2 separate regions of the Homo sapiens genome follow, and region 2 is linked to region 1. The links come from fine-mapping of genetic effects on gene expression. Tissue or cell type: blood mononuclear cells. Region 1 holds a variant in brackets; the other region holds the start of a gene. All regions are shown on one strand. Distances are from middle to middle.

Evidence for each region. PIP is the estimated chance that this variant, and not a neighbour inherited with it, causes the effect.
Region 2: it holds the start of ALDH5A1, and the variant in region 1 is fine-mapped to the expression of ALDH5A1 in blood mononuclear cells (TOPMed, PIP above 0.99).

What each region holds. Positions count from the first base shown.
Region 1 is chr6:24,546,382-24,551,587 of GRCh38, reverse strand. It overlaps KIAA0319, which reads left to right. Exons shown (of 21, transcript NM_014809.4): 20 at 63-154; 21 at 4,245-5,206. The coding sequence ends at 4,423. Among named protein-coding and RNA genes, the nearest start is that of ALDH5A1, 54 kb to the right of the region's middle. RefSeq lists an enhancer at 3,835-4,357. The variant A/C (reference allele first, on the strand shown) is at 2,662.
Region 2 is chr6:24,491,840-24,496,970 of GRCh38, reverse strand. It overlaps ALDH5A1 (aldehyde dehydrogenase 5 family member A1), which reads right to left and starts at 2,002. Exons shown (of 10, transcript NM_001080.3): 1 at 1,621-2,002. The coding sequence starts at 1,974. It also overlaps a transcript of GPLD1 not described here. RefSeq lists a silencer at 1,607-1,996.

The DNA.
Region 1 (5,206 bases):
AAATCCTAGCTCTCAGTTACCTTTCTAAAGATCTGAGTTGAGCTTTTCATTGTTCCTTTCAGACAAAAAAGGACTAAAATCAGGAAAAAAACAAAGTACACCATCCTGGATAACATGGATGAACAGGAAAGAATGGAACTGAGGCCCAAATATGGTAAGACAGTCTGCAGAATGACTGCCTGGCACCTTTATATGATTTAACCTAGGTAGGCCTGAGGGCTAACTTGGATAGAGGGAGAACGATTTGCTGGAGTCAGCACTTTAATTGGGAAGGAAGAGTGAGGCTGGGATTCTGTGATGAAAAACAACCTTCAGGCCGGGCCCAGTGGCTCATGCCTGTAATCCTAGCACTTAGGCCAAGGCGCCTGAGCTCAGTAGTTCGAGACCACCCTGGGCAACATGGTGACACCATCTCTACTAAAAAATACAAAAAAAAAAAAAATTAGCCGGGCGTGGTGGTGTGCGCCTGTAGTCCCAGCTATTCGGGAGGCTGAGGCAGAAGAATAGCTTGAGACTGGGAGGTGGAGGTTGCAGTGAGCTGAGATCACACCTCTGCACTACAGCTTGGGCTACAGACTGAGACTCTGTCTCAAGAAAGAAAAAGAAAAATAACCTTCATCAATCCTGAGGATATGCTAATGCGGGGGTGGGGGCAGAAGGCAGTGGGTTCATTATAAATTTAATGAAATTTTGGTGTAATACTTTGAGGCATTAATGGATGAGGGATATGAAATGTTATCAGCTGGGCACCTACCAATGACCACAGGGCAAAGACTGCTTTTTAAACAGAGATGTCCCCAGCACCTGCTTTTTTTTCTACTCGCGGGTGGAGGGTGGGGGCAGTTGAAGACACTCCCACAGCTCAGCTCTGAACGCTGTTCCCTTTAGGTCTGCTAGGACAGAAATGCAGCAAGAGGACATTTGGACTTTAAAGCCTAACATTTTTCAGCAGCTGCGTTATCTAATTAGCCATTGATAAAGATGGACACAAAGGCTTTACAGAAAATTGACTTTCTTCACAAAGTGTATTGATCCCTATGCTTAGGAGCACCTGTTGCCCACCTCGGTTAACTTTTTCATTCTCGTTTATTAACTGTTGCATACTTAATGAAACTTCTCTGGCCCTCTGAGGCTGCTAAACACCGATTCTATAGATTTTCCATAATTCTGGGCTTATGACTAAGATAATTTTTATGGAAGATATAATCTTTTTCAGAGTTGTGAGGTGCAAAACATTGTTCACAGTGAGTGTTGAATGCCTACCTTGTGCACAGGCACCGGGTTAGGCCCTGGAGACTGGGAGAGGAGGAAGCACAGAGCCTGCCTTTACAGGAGCTCACAGCCTGAGGGAGGGTAATTATACTGGAGTGCAAGGAGTTCTATCAGTGCATGGACGATGCCGGGTAGGAACACTCAGGTCAGAATGACTGATCGTGTACAGAGAGTGTAGCTAATAGGGCTTTGGCAGGAAGAGCCTCACAGGAAGAACAAATAGTGGCATACATTGAGTGCTCACCATTTGCATTGCATAATATCAGAAGTATTATAGTGACGTTTACCTAAGAGCTCAACGTGCTTTAGGTTGCATTATCTCACCCATCTTTGTCTTAAAATACACTCATCCTTCTGACATTCCTGTTTCTATTCATAGAACCCCCATTCTCACTGCCCCAGTTTGAAACCTCAGTCGCTGGTGCTCCACACACACCGCCCCCCACTCCAGACACCCGCACTTGCTAGACTCTTGCCCTCTTTCCTCGTCATTACCATCACCACCCCAGTTCAGGTCCTTACAGTTTCACCCGTGAACTAATAGTAATAATAAACAGGTATTTAATGTTGAATATGTACTAGGTACATCTCAAGTACTTTACCCATTGAATTCTAATCCTGCCCATAGCGGTACGAGGTATGTGCAATGATTATCCCCATTTTACACATGAGGAAACTGAGGCAAAGGAAAGTTTAGCAACTTGCCCAAGTAACATAGCTGGTGAGTGCTGAAGGTGGGGTGGAGGCTGGGCTCTTCCTCTATGTTGCACTGCCTCTGCCTTGGTCTGTTTGGGCTGCTCTAACAAAATGCCACAGAAGAGGAGGCTTATGAACAACAGATATTTATTACCCACAGTTCTGGAGGCTGGGAAGGCAAATTCAACATCTGGGCAGGGCCGCTTCCTCATAGTTGGTGCCTCCTCACTGCATCCTCACATGGTGCAAAGGGCAAGGCAGCCTCTGGTGCCTCTTTTTTTTTTTTTTTTTTTGGAGACAGAGTCTTGCTCTATCCCCCAGACTGGAATGCAGTGGTGCAATCTCAGCTCACTGCAACCTCTGCCTCCCAGGTTCAAGCAATTCTCATGCCTTAGCCTCCCAAGTAGTTGGGATTACAGGCACCTGTCCACCATGCCCAGCTAATCTTTTTTGTATTTTTAGTAGAGACAGGGTTTCTCCATGTCAGCCAGGCTGGTCTCGAACTCCTGACGTCAAGTGATCCACCCGCCTCGGCCTCCCAAAGTGCTGAGATTACAGGTGTGGGCCACCACACCTGGCCTCTGGTGCCTCTTTTATGTGAGCACTAATCCCATTCGATCACCACCCAAATGCCCCACCTCTTAGTACCACCATTTAGGCATTAGATTTCAACACATGAATTTGTGGGGGTGC[A/C]AACATTCAGACCACAGCAACCTCTATGTCTACTGTCCGTCTTCCATCCTGCACACTGTGGTTTTATTAATGTCTCAGAACAACATTTTAATAGTGTCATTTCTCTGCTTTTAGGATAAAATCCAAACTTCATGGTTTACTTTGTATTCATGTGCTTTTCTGTGAGGTCCCTGCCTTTCTCCGGCCTCTCTCCTTCATTATTTCCTACATGAATCATTTGCTCCAAACAAACCAGTTTTTTTCTAAATATTCCCGGATGCTTCTGCATACTCCATGACCTTCCCCGTCCTCTTGTCTAAAATCTCTTCTTCAAATCTCACTGATAGAGACAGGAGACAGCCAAGAGTCCCTGGCGAAACCCCACCTCCAAGCCTAAAACAGCCTGAAGGCTGAAAAACTGGACTGCTGGTCCCCAGTGAAGGCCCTGCCCTTTCCCAGCTGATTCTCCCTAAGTAATGTCCACCTGCGCACTGGGGAAAGAGGATGGAGCCACAGGAAGTTCGTGTCATTTGCAGTGGGGAGGAGCCTGGCCTCTTCAGTTTCTGTGTGGTAACCTGGGATTCAATCTGTGAGGCAGGAGGTTGTTGGCAAGACCCCCTCTCTATTTGCTGAGAGTTTTTGTTTCCTTTTTGACCAATAAATTCCATTTTTCTCACCCCTCTATGTTTCCGTGAGCCTAATCTTTCCTGGTAGTGTGACAAGAGCCTGGTTTTAGCTGAACTAAGGAGAAAGTTCTGCAACATCACCCTATGGGAAACATTACTGAAGCAACCCCTGCCATAAGTATATGTGCTTATCTCCTAATTCATATACAATTTAAAAAACATCTAACCTGTTATGAGCCATCTTCTCATGAGTCTATGCCTTTTATGTCTTGTTTTTGTTTTTTTTCCCGAGACAGGGTCTTGCTCTGTCACCTGGGCTAGAGCATAGCAACACGATCATAGTTCACTGTACCCTCGAACTCCTGGCCTCAAGTGATCCTCCCACCTCAGCCTCCCAAAGGGCTGGGATTATAGGCGTGAGCCACCATGCCCAGCCAAGTCTATGTCTTAAACCCCTAGCTAGACACCATAAATCCTTTGAGAGTAGGAATTGAATCTTATACCTGTTCTGTATCTTAGGTTGACCCCCTGAAATCAAATATTCTACCAAAAATATTTTAACCAAATGGTAAAATCACAGAAGCTTTCGTTTGTTGGATGCTTACAATGTACTAAAGGCTGGGCCAAGAGAGCTTTACATGCACTATTTCACTTAATCCTCAGCATAAACTCATGGGGTAGATGCTTTGTTATCTTCCAGTTGAATAGAGGAGGAGACTGAAAGCTCAGAGAGGTTCGGTATCTTGCCCAGGCTCAAGCATCTGGCGAGTGTCAAAGCTGGGACAGAAGCTCGGGTGAGGCATCAAAGCCCCTGCAGTTACTTGCTAGGAAACCCAAACCGCCTGCTGTTTTGAGTGATTGCTTTCAAGGGGCGGAGAGCACCACTCCGTGCCCATCACAGGACCTGCAACCACAACGACTGACAGCTGGAAGTGAATCACGGCGTTCCTCCTCAGATGCTTCTGTGCTTCTCTCTAGGTATCAAGCACCGAAGCACAGAGCACAACTCCAGCCTGATGGTATCCGAGTCTGAGTTTGACAGTGACCAGGACACAATCTTCAGCCGAGAAAAGATGGAGAGAGGGAATCCAAAGGTTTCCATGAATGGTTCCATCAGAAATGGAGCTTCCTTCAGTTATTGCTCAAAGGACAGATAATGGCGCAGTTCATTGTAAAGTGGAAGGACCCCTTGAATCCAAGACCAGTCAGTGGGAGTTACAGCACAAAACCCACTCTTTTAGAATAGTTCATTGACCTTCTTCCCCAGTGGGTTAGATGTGTATCCCCACGTACTAAAAGACCGGTTTTTGAAGGCACAAAACAAAAACTTTGCTCTTTTAACTGAGATGCTTGTTAATAGAAATAAAGGCTGGGTAAAACTCTAAGGTATATACTTAAAAGAGTTTTGAGTTTTTGTAGCTGGCACAATCTCATATTAAAGATGAACAACGATTTCTATCTGTAGAACCTTAGAGAAGGTGAATGAAACAAGGTTTTAAAAAGGGATGATTTCTGTCTTAGCTGCTGTGATTGCCTCTAAGGAACAGCATTCTAAACACGGTTTCTCTTGTAGGACCTGCAGTCAGATGGCTGTGTATGTTAAAATAGCTTGTCTAAGAGGCACGGGCCATCTGTGGAGGTACGGAGTCTTGCATGTAGCAAGCTTTCTGTGCTGACGGCAACACTCGCACAGTGCCAAGCCCTCCTGGTTTTTAATTCTGTGCTATGTCAATGGCAGTTTTCATCTCTCTCAAGAAAGCAGCTGTTGGCCATTCAAGAGCTAAGGAAGAATCGTATTCTAAGGACTGAGGCAATAGAAAGGGGAGGAGGAGCTTAATGCCGTGCAGGTTGAAGGTAGCATTGTAACATTATCTTTTCTTTCTCTAAGAAAAACTACACTGACTCCTCTCGGTGTTGTTTAGCAGTATAGTTCTCTAATG
Region 2 (5,131 bases), 55 kb after region 1:
TGTATCTCATGTCCTCAATGAGACCTACCCTGATGTTACGGGCTGAATGGTGCTCCTGGCAAAATTGACATGTCGAAGTCCTAACCCCCCAGTATCTCAGAATGTGAGTGCATTTGGAAATAGGGTCTTTAAAAAGGGAATTAAGTTATGATGAGGTCATTCTGGTGGGCCCCAATCCAATCTGACTCCTGTTTTTAAAAGAAGAAGAGATTAGGACACATATACACACAGAGGAAAGACCATGTGGAGACACACAGGGAAGATTCATTCATATAACCAACTGCTTACTTTACATCCTCACTTGGGCGTGAACAGACATCTCAGACTCCATGAGTCTAAAATTGAGGTCTGATGAGATACAAAGACAAAAGCTGAGCTCTCTGCAAGCCAATGAGAGGCCTTAGAAGAAACCAACTCTGACAACACCTCGATCTGGGATTTCTACCCTCCAGAGCGGTAAAATGAGAAATGTCTGTTGTTCAGGCCACCCAGTCTGTGGTACTTTGCTATGGCAGCCCTAGCAGAGGAATATGCCTGGTCACACTGTTGATGCTGCATCTTGCCCCTTCCCTCTGGCCCGGATCCTCTCCTGCTTCTACCTTTTTTCCATATTGCACTCAGCATCTCTCACATACTTATTTGCTTAGATATTATGTTTGTTGTTTAGAGTTCTGATCTCTCTTCTGCTCCCCTTCCACCCCATGTGAGCTCCATAAGGGCAGAATCCTTCTTTCGTTTAACTGAGGTATCCCAAGCACCTCCAACAGTGCAGGGCATACAGCAGGTGCTCAGTAAACAGCTGATGGATGAATGAGTGCTAAGACTCTCTTGTACTCGTAGGGATCGCTGGATGCATTCCTTCAGAGGGAGAGCTTTGAAGGACACGGTAAAAAATTTCACTGCGTTGACTCCAGGTTTAATAATATAATATTAGAAGGAAGAAACTACTTTCTTAGTTTTCTTCTTACTCTATTCTTCCCATTTAATGGCCCTCCACCCCTTACTCCCAATTCTCCAGTGTTCTCTATGCAATGGCCAATAGCAGCATTTATCCATTTAGGGTGAAAACCTGGAGAACGCTCCTGGATTTCTCTCTTCCCCTGCACAAAACCCAAATCTTTCTACAGTTCTCTCCGTTTCCGATCCCATGATTCTGGCCAGGGGCCCTCACTACCAGCCTTCTCAAGGGCCGCTGAAGCAGCCTCCTGCGTGGGCTCCCTGCAGCTGCGGAGATATTTCAGCTACTCTGAAGGGCCACACGTGCTCTCACTTCCCTGACACCCCTCCCCTTTCTCCCCGCCCCTCCACGGTTAGGCTTGTTGACCATAACAAGCAGCTCGCTTGTATTAGGCGCTCACGTTCTGCCTCCCCTACTGGGCAGTGCATAACTTGATGAGGCTTGAGGGCAGGGGTCGTGTCCCTAGTGCCCGGCTCAAAGTGGAAGCTCCAAACTTATTTGTCGGTCGTCTCCCTTGTTGCTCTGACTTTCCACTTTGTATACCCTGGGGAACTGAGCACAGGAGGGAGGCGACGCGGCTGGTGTCACTTTGGGGTAAAGCCCCCTCTGCTCCCCGCCGTGTCCCCGGCCAGCTCTGGCCCCCTGCATCCGGGCTCTCTCACCTTGGCGGAGACCTCCCTCCAGCGGCAGAAAGCCTCGTAGGCAGCGCGCACGGCGGCGCGGGCCTCTCGCACCCCGCAGTCGGCTACCATGCCCAGAGCGGCGCCGCTGGCCGGGTCTTGCACGGGGAAGGTGGCGGCGGCCGGGAGCCAGCGGCCGCCCACGAAGCTGTCGGTGCGCAGCAGCGCCGCAGAGAGGCCCGCCAGGCGCCCAGCGTAGCAGCGGAGCTGGGCCGGGCCGGGCGCAGGCCCGGAGGCAGGGACCAGGCCGCCGGCGCGGGGGCGGAGGCGGCAGCCTGGAAACGTCGACCCGAGGCGCCGGGCCCCACAGCTCCGCAGCCAAATGCAGGTCGCCATGGCCCGGGCAACGACGGCGACAGGAAACAGGCAAGCGGGCGCGCGCGCACGGGAACGCAGGGGTCGCGGGGAAGCAAGAGGAGCGAGGAGGCGCCGGGGACGCGCGGGGAAAGCGTGGGAGCTGGCGGAAGGTTGCAGAGCCACAGAGCAGCGCCCTCTCTCCGCGTCTTTCTCGCTGCACCGCCGCGCCGCCCTCTGCACCTTGCCCTAAGCGCCGCGCGGCTTCTCTCCTGGCGCGACCTTCTCCCGGGGGAGGGTTGGGTTCGGGGATGGAGAAGGCTCGCCAGTAGATGCACCTGCGGACTGCTGTCACCTTTTCACTTTTCGGGTGCTCATTTGTCACTAACTGCTCCTGAGCCCCCAATCGCTGCTAGAGACCCACTCTCTCCCCTTAGCATCCCCCAAATTCGGCATCCCCGGAATTTGTGCGCGGTCCATAGATGCGCTGGTGCCTGCCCTAAATGCCAAGGCCGTGATCACGCTTCTTCAGTTGTAGCTCCTGAGCACGTAGTATTGATTGGGAGCGATCGTTCTCTGAGGGGTCGAAGTGTGACCCCGCGTTCTGCTGCCTGGCTGCTTTTTTGGGTGTGTGTCTAGGCATTCTCCTAGGGTTGCTCCCGATAAATAACAGCGCTTTGGAAATAAACAGACTAGGATCCAAACTCAAGTCTGTTGCCGACAAGCTGTGTGACCGACAGGTTAACCTTAGTCCAGTCACTTATAAAATAGAACCATATCTACCCCATTTTGTTGTGAGATAACGTAAAATGCTCATTACAGTTGCCACATTAAATTCAATATAGCGTTCAAAGTCATACTAGCTACCCTAGTCAAGCCACTAGTAAGATTAAAGTTGGGTCACCAACTAGTAAATGGAAGCATTTGTCAAAATTGAATCAACCAAGGTATAAGGATTGAGCATACTATCCAACCAAGGTATTTGAGCACCTTTAAACAGCATTCTTCATCCGTTAAAAAATTAGACTTGGGCTTAAGACTCTGAAAGCAGCAGGGAAGCTTAAAACCTAATGAGGATAAAAATAAAAATAGCAGGCGTATGCTGGGAATTTGTGGGTGCAAATGAAGCCCAGCCCTATGCATTGATTTTAGGTTACATATCTCCCTTTCTCAACTCCTACAGCGTTGAGAGTATCTTGCTAGCTTTCACCTTTTTCTAGGACGTTGAATTTTTTTCTAGGACATTTGCAAAATGCCGAGGCAGTAACTTTAAATTTTGACTTTGTCTTTTGCTGAGTCAGATCCATTGAGTTTTGAGCCAGTCACATATGGCAGAAGTGATAACAGTAGAGTTTAATCAATTTCACACTATTTTGCTCTGTATTTTATTGCAGGAACTGGGGAGAACCAGGGAGTCCTAATAGGGATGTGGGCCAGTAGGTATCACAGGTGGGGCTGGGGAGCTGGCGTGTTTACATCTCCTGCCTGCGGAGGGAGTTTTTGTTTTTGTTTTGTTTTGTTTTTGGTGGTGGTTTTTGTTTTTTGTTTGTTTTGTTCTTGTGAGACCGACAGACTCATTCTGTCACCCAGGGTGGAGTGCAGTGGTGCGATTTCAGCTCCCTGCAACTTCCGCCTCCCGGGTTCAAGCGATTCTCCTGCCTCAGCCTCCCGAGTAGATGGGGCTACAGGTGTGTGCCACCAAGCCCAGCTAATTTTTGTATTTTTAGTAGAGACAGGTTTTCACCGTGTTGGCCAGGCTGGTCTTGAATGCCTGACCTCAAGTTATCCGCCCTCCTTGGCCTCCCAAAGTGCTGGGATTACAGGGCTCATTTCTACTGGCCTGGGGAAATCATTCAATTGAGGCCTCAATCAACTGAGGCCCAGAAAAGCCAAGTTAATTGTGGCTGCCTCTCTTGTTCAAAAATTACCCTAGCCCACTTACCTTTTTAAGGTTCTATTTCAAACGGTACCCACTCCCTTTCCCAGATGACTTATCCATTACGCACAGTAGGTACGATGCCAAGGGCCCATAAAACTTTTAGGAGCACTCACAAATGTTTAATTTATTCTAAAATCTGAAGAAAAGAAGTTTTAGGTGGCATATTAATATGTTAATCTTACACCAATGCAGATGTAAAATGTGATTTCTATTTATTGTTTACTTATTTTTGTGACAGGAAGTACTTCACAAAGGCAAAAGCGCCTGGAGCTTAGAAAGTTCACAATGTGGCCCTCCCCTTTTCCCTCAGTTTTGTGCCCCTCTTCAAGCCCCCATTCAGAGTGTAAACAATTTCCTCCTGGCTCCTGTCTTACTTCCAGCCTGTCCTGATGCCCCCTAGCGCCTGGCTGGGTGTCTGTCCTTACCAGGGCCTACAAGGACAAGACCATCAGGTGAGAGGGACCTCTTCCCTCCTTTCTCCTTTGGCTGCCCTTGTCCTGGGAACCTCCACTCCCCAGTTCCCACCCTTATTCATCCTCTCCCCCATTTTCTTTTTCTTTTTTTTCTTTCACTTTTTTTTTTTTTTTTTTTTTTGAGTCAGGGTCTTACTCTGTCGCCCAGGCTGGAGTGCAATGGCACGATCTCAGCTCATTGCAACGTCTGCCTCCTGGGTTCAAGTGATTCTCCTGCCTCAGCCTCCAGAGTAGCTGGGAGTACAGGTGCGCGCCACCATGCCTGGCTAATTTTTGTATTGTTTAGTAGAGATGGGGTTTCACCATGTTGGCCAGGCTGGTCTTGAACTCCTGACCTCAGGTGATCTGCCCACCTCGGCCTCCCAAAGTGCTGGGATTACAGGCATGAGACACTGTGCCCAGCCTCTTCTCCCCCATTTTCTAGACTGGCCCACATAAAGCTTGAGACCCTCTGGCTTTCAAACCTGTATTCTCCCTACTCACTCCTTAATGTAACTGTATGTTTACTTTTCACCTTGGGTCTCTATTTCCAGAAGAGTTCTAAATGGTAGAATCATGCTGTCTTGTTTATAACAAAGCCACCTATATTAGGAAAGGGGGGTGTGGGGCAGAAAGAAAAATATTTCCATATGCTTATTATTTGTCAGATAGTAATATTGTGAGCTACGTTTTAACTTTCTTTAAAGTCATATCTTTGATGTTTTTATTGTTACCAAAGTAATACAAACTTCATAAAACTGCAAGCAATATTGTCATATAAAGACCATATTCATAACTATCACACTAA